2 separate regions of the Homo sapiens genome follow, and region 1 is linked to region 2. The links come from fine-mapping of genetic effects on gene expression. A gene starts in region 2. The other region holds a variant in brackets. All regions are shown on one strand. Distances are from middle to middle.

What was found. PIP is the estimated chance that this variant, and not a neighbour inherited with it, causes the effect.
Region 1: its variant is fine-mapped to the expression of TERB2 in liver (GTEx, PIP 0.96).

Annotation. Positions count from the first base shown.
Region 1 is chr15:44,303,438-44,306,351 of GRCh38, reverse strand. The region is part of intron 1 of GOLM2 (golgi membrane protein 2); the gene reads right to left. Among named protein-coding and RNA genes, the nearest start is that of GOLM2, 16 kb to the right of the region's middle. The variant G/A (reference allele first, on the strand shown) is at 1,228.
Region 2 is chr15:44,955,211-44,958,111 of GRCh38, reverse strand. TERB2 (telomere repeat binding bouquet formation protein 2) reads right to left here and starts at 1,425. Exons shown (of 7, transcript NM_152448.3): 1 at 1,330-1,425; 2 at 1,135-1,216. The coding sequence starts at 1,393.

The DNA of each region.
Region 1 (2,914 bases), 650 kb after region 2:
AAGTCGGAAGCCAGCAGAGGTTGGTTCATGAAGTTTAAAAAAAAAAAGCAATCTCCATAACATAAAGGTGCAAGGGGAAGTGGCAAGTGCTGATGAAAAAGCTGCAGCAAGTTATCCAGAAAATCTAGCTAAGATCACTGAAGGTGGCTACACTAAACAACACATTTTCCATGTAAATGAAACAGCCTTCTATTGGAAGAAGATGCCATCTAGAACTTTCATAGCTGCAGAGAAGTCAATATCTGGTTTCAAAGCTTCAAAGGACAGGCTGATTCTCCTGTTAGGGACAGCTGGTGACTTTAAGTGGAAGCCAACGCTCACTTACCATTCCTAAAATCCTAGCTTTTAAGAATTGTGCTAAATCTGTTTTATCTGCGCTCTATAAATGGAACAACAAAGCCTGTATGATAGCACATCTGTTTACAGCATGGTTTACTGAATATTTTCAGTTCACTGTTGAGATATACTACTTAAAAAAAAGATTCCTTTCAAAATACTAGTGCTCACTGACAATGTCCCTGGTCACCCAAGATCTCTGATGAAGATTTACAAGGACATTAATCTTTTCATGTCTGCTAACAGCAACCCATGGAGCAAGGAGTAATTTCTACTTTCAAATCTTATTATTTAACAAATACCTTTCATAAGGCTATACCTACCATGATGTAATTCCTCTGATGGATCTGGGCAAAATAAATTGAAAGTCTTCTAGAAAGAATTCACCAATCTAGATGCCATTAAGAACATTTGTAGAGGCTGGGTGCAGTGGCTCACGTCTATAATCTCAGCACTTTGAGAGACAGAGGCGGGTGGACACTTGGGCTCAGGAGTTCAAGACGGGCCTGGGCAACATGGGGAGACCCTGTCTCTACTAAAAATAGAAAAATTAGCCAGGTGTAGAGGCCCATACCTGTGGTCCCAGCTACTCGGAGGCTGAAGTGGGAGGATCACTTGAGCTCAGGGGGTAGAGGTTGTAGTGAGCCGAGATCGCACCACTGCACTCCAGCCTAAGTGACAGATCAAGACTCTGTCTCAAAAAAAAAATTATAATAATTTGTGGCTGGGCACAGTGGCCATTAATTCCATCACTTTGGGAGGCCAAGGCAGGCAAATTGCTTGGGCCTAGGATTTTGAGACCAGCCTGGATAACATGGCAAAACTCCACCTCTACAAAAAATACAAAATTAGCCAGGTATGGTGGCATGTGCCTGTAGTCCCAGCTACTCG[G/A]AAGGCTGAGATAGGAGGATCACCTGAGTCCAGGGAGGTCAAGGCTGCAGTGAGCCATGAATTGTGCCACTGTACTCCAGCCTGGGCAACAGAGACTGTGCCTCAAAAAAAAGAACATTTGTGATTCATAGAAGAAGGCTAAAATATTAACAGGAACATGAGTTTGGAATAAGTTGATTCCAACTCTCATGAATGATTTTGAGGGGATTCAAGACTTCAGTGGAGGAAGTAACTGCAGATGTGGTACAAATAGCAAGAGACCTAGAATTAGGCTAGGCACGGTGGCTTATGCCTGTAATCCCAGTACTTTGGGAAGCCAGGGCAGGAGGATCACTTGAGTATGGGAGTTTGAAACCAGCCTGGGCAACATAGCAAGACCCTGGTCTACAAACCATTTTTTAAAAATTAGCCAGGAGTGATGGCTCAGGCCTGTGGCCCAGCTACTCAGGAGGCTGAGGTGGGAGAATTGCTTGACCCCAGGAGGTTGAGGCTACAGTGAGCTGTGATTGCACCACTGCATTCAGCCTAAGTGACTGAGTAAGAGAGAAAGAGAGAGAACTAGAAATAGAAGTAGAGCCTGGAGGGCTGGGAGCGATGGCTTATGCCTGTAGTCCCAGCACTTTGGGAGGCTGAGGAGGGCAGATCACTTGAGGTCAGGAGTTTGAGACCAGCCTGGCCAACCTGGTGAAACCCTGTCTCTACTAAAAGTACAAAAATTAGCCAGGTGTGGTGGTGGGCGCCTGTAATCCCAGCTACTCAGGAGGCTGAGACAAGAGAATTGCTTGAACCTGTGAGGCGGAGGCTGCAGTGAGCCGAGATCATGCCATTGCACTCCAGCCTTGACACAAGAGTGAAACTCTGTCTCAAAAAAAAAAAAAAAAAAAAAAAAAAAAAGAAGTGGAGCCTGAAGACGTGACTGAATTACTGCAATCTCATGATAAAACTTGAATAGGCCAGGCATGGTGGTTTATGCCTGTAATCCCAGGACTTTGGGAGGTTGAGGTGGGAGGATTACTTGAGGCCAGGAGTTCAAGACCAGCCCTGGGGAACATAGCAAGACCACATCTCTACAAAATTTTAAAATTAGCCAGGTGTGGCCAGGCACCGTGGTTCACACCTGTAATCCTAGCACTTTGGAAGGCCGAGTCAGGCGGATCACTTAAGGTCAGGAGTTTGAGACCTACTTGGCCAACAAAACCCTGTCTCTACTGAAATACAAAAATCAGCCAGGCCTGGTGGTGCATGTCTGTAATCCCAGCTACTCAGGAGGCTAAGGCACGAGAATTGCTTGAACCTGGGAGGTGGAAGTTGCGTTGAGCTGAGATCACACCACTGCACTCCAGCCTGGTGACAGGGCGAGACTCTGTCTCAAAAAAAAAAAAAAAAAAAAAATTAGCCAGGTGTGATGGCACAAGTTTGTAGTCCTAGCTGCTCCAGATGCTGAGGCAGGAGGATTGCTTGAGTCCAGAAGGTCAAGGCTGCAGTGAGCCATGATCATGCCACTGCAGTTTAGCCTGGGTGACAGAATGAGACCCTGTCACCAAAAAAAACAAACAAAAATCCAAGCTATGCTTATAACTCAAACTTTTTTTCATTATATCCCCATGAAGCTAATCCCAAGGTTTTGTTCTCTTCACTTAAACACTAAATTGAATCAGAAAAATATTTTTGAGTTTCTAAATGAATA
Region 2 (2,901 bases):
CTGGGCATCAACAGTGGATTGAGCTAGCAGCCTATGGGGCTTATCCATGGTCATTGCTATAAAGAGGGATCAATTAATCCTGAGGTGAGGAGTGTGCATGCAGTCAGAGAAAGCTTCACATATAGAAAGCAACATCTTTTCTATAGGTGGAGATAAGAAGAGCATTACAAGAAAAAGGCATGCATGAACAATAATGGCAGTTCGGGTTGACTGGGCTACGGAAGTCATGAGAAAAACTGGGAAATAAACAAGGCAGGCACAGCCACGATCTAAATCTGTAGGAAATCAGCAGCTTGGGGGTGGGGGCGGGAGTGAGGAAAGGAGGGTGGTAGGGCCCTGATCTGATGTCTGGTTTGTAAACGAAATCTGATAGCCATGCGAAGGGGGATCTCAGGGAACAGATTCGAGGCACAGTAACGGCTTAGGAAGTTACTCTGATAGTCCCGGCGAAAACGGAATTAAGGTGCTACTAAGTTAGTGTCAGTGAGGATGAAGAACAATTACAGGGATCTAATTCATGGTATTCGGCCTCTGACTGATTCATGGCGTAGGGTTGTTATTCAAAGTTATTCAAAGTTTTGGAGAACACAGGCCCTGGCGCAGGTATGAGGGGAAATGACAAGATTTGATTTAGACATTGAGTATGAGGGGCCTTCAAGGCGCTACATGCGGGTGTAGAAGAGGCAGCTGGAAACACACACTTGGAATTCAGGAAGAGGCCCGAGGACCAGGGAGAAGCCTGTGACACTGCAGCAGAAAGGAAAGGAGGTTGTCTATTTCTTTCCCTCAAATCTAGGACTGAAAACTTGCTCGTTTTCAGTCTCACCCTATCGTCAATATTATTTATTTATTTTTTATTTTATTGTATTTTATTACTTTATTTATGTTTTTTTTTTTTGAGATGGAATCTTGCTCTGTCACCCAGGCTGGAGTGCAGTGGTGCGATCTTGGCTCACTGCAACCTCCGCCTCCCGAGTTCAAGCGATTCTCCTGCTTCAGTCTTCCCAGTAGCTGGGATTATAGGTGTCCGCCACCGCGCCCAGCCTCATCAATATTTATTAGTGGACTGCAACTTCCATCCCTAACTCCCGGCTCATCCTAACATAAGAGGCACTGCCAGGTCGCCCTCAGTACCTCAGCGTGTCTGGGTGCGAGGCATCACAGCTGAACAAGAAGTCGGCGGCTCGCGGGTCACTGATCGTTCCCCCTTCAGCCACTGTGGAGGTAAGAGCACAGGGTGAACCTATCAAGCACCCTGGACCCAAAGCATCAGAGAGAGGAGGATGCTCCCCTCACCACCTAACCCGCTGCTTCCACTCAGCTTCCTACCCCAGAATTGCCTCAGATCCTGGCTAACGCTGCCGCAAAACCAACCGCGCTGCCCTTGAAACATGGCGTCGCCAAGCCTGTGGAGATGTGAGAGAGGAGGCCGCAGAGCTGAGATCCCTGATTGGTTCCAGGTCCAAAGTCAAGCTCGATGATTGGTTCTCAAGAGGAATGGCCGGGAAGGGCCTGAGGCCCTCAGATAAGGGACAGTCACTACCAGACTGAGCTGACTGGTTCTCGGGATCACTTAGGGGCCTCTCAGCCTTCCCCTGATAAGAGGAGGGCGGCGACTCGAGTTGGTGAGGGTTTTTTGTTTGGTTGGTTTTGTTTTAAATTTTGAGGTGGGGAGTTTTAAACCCTAAATATTAACAAAGTTACCATGCTTTATGTTTACAGGCATAGGGCAGATTCTGCAGCATCAAGTATTATTTTTGAAGCAAAATTCATTTCATCATTTCATCTATAAATGTTTCACTTTGAATCCCTGAAAAGTGAGGACTTAAAAAACATACACACAACCGCGACACCATTCTCACACTTAAAAGATAGTTCTTTAATATAGTCAAATAGCACCAGTGTTCAAATTTCTGTTTTACTCAAAATTGTTTTCCTTTTACAGTTTCCCACCTCTTACATCAGTTGTGATAAGTAGTTATATTTTTCTGGTGTTGTCTTCCTTTAAACATTAAAAAATTGTTTATATAAAGTTGTCCATAAAGTCTTTTACTTTTTTAATATCTGAGGGATCTCTAGTCATGGTTCTTGTTCTCATTTTTTTGTCCTTGTTTTTAAATTTTTCCTCCTACTTTAGTCACCTCTCTGACAATCTTTTTTTCATTTCTGATACTGGTCATTTGTGCCTTCCCTTTTTTTATTTCCTAATCTGATTAGAACTTCGTCAATTTTTTAGCCTTTTCAAAGAACATACTTCTGGTTTTATTGATATTCTCTTCATGTATTTCTTTTCTATATCATTAATTTTAGCTCTTTATAATTTCCTTCCACTTTTCTTTCTTTAAAATTGCTGTTCTTAGGCTGGGCGCAGTGGCTCATGCCTGTAATCCCAGCACTTTCGGAGGCCTAGGTCGGGGGATCACTTGAGGTCAGGAGTTCGAGACCAGCCTGGCCAGCATGGTGAAACCCCATCTCTACTAAAAATACAAAAAATATCCGGGTGTGGTGGCGCATGCCTGTAATCTCAGCTACTAGGGAAGCTGAGACAGGAGAATCGCTTGAGCCCGGGAGGCAGATGTTGCAGTGAGTTGAGATCACGCCACTGCACTCCAGCCTGGGTGACAGGGCAACACTCCATCTCAAAAAAAAAAAAAAAAAAAAAAAAAAAAAGGCTGTTATTTTTCTAATTTCTTGAACTAGATAATTGTTTTTGATCCTTTATTTTTCTAATATGTGCATATAAAGCTATAAATTTCCTTTGAAATGTGTGTCACATGTTTTTAAGAGGTCATTTTTTATTATTATTCAATTCAAAGTATTTTCAGATTTCCCATATGAGTATTGTGACTTGTGGATTATGTGAAATGTTTTTAAATCTCCAAGTACATATGATTTTCTAGT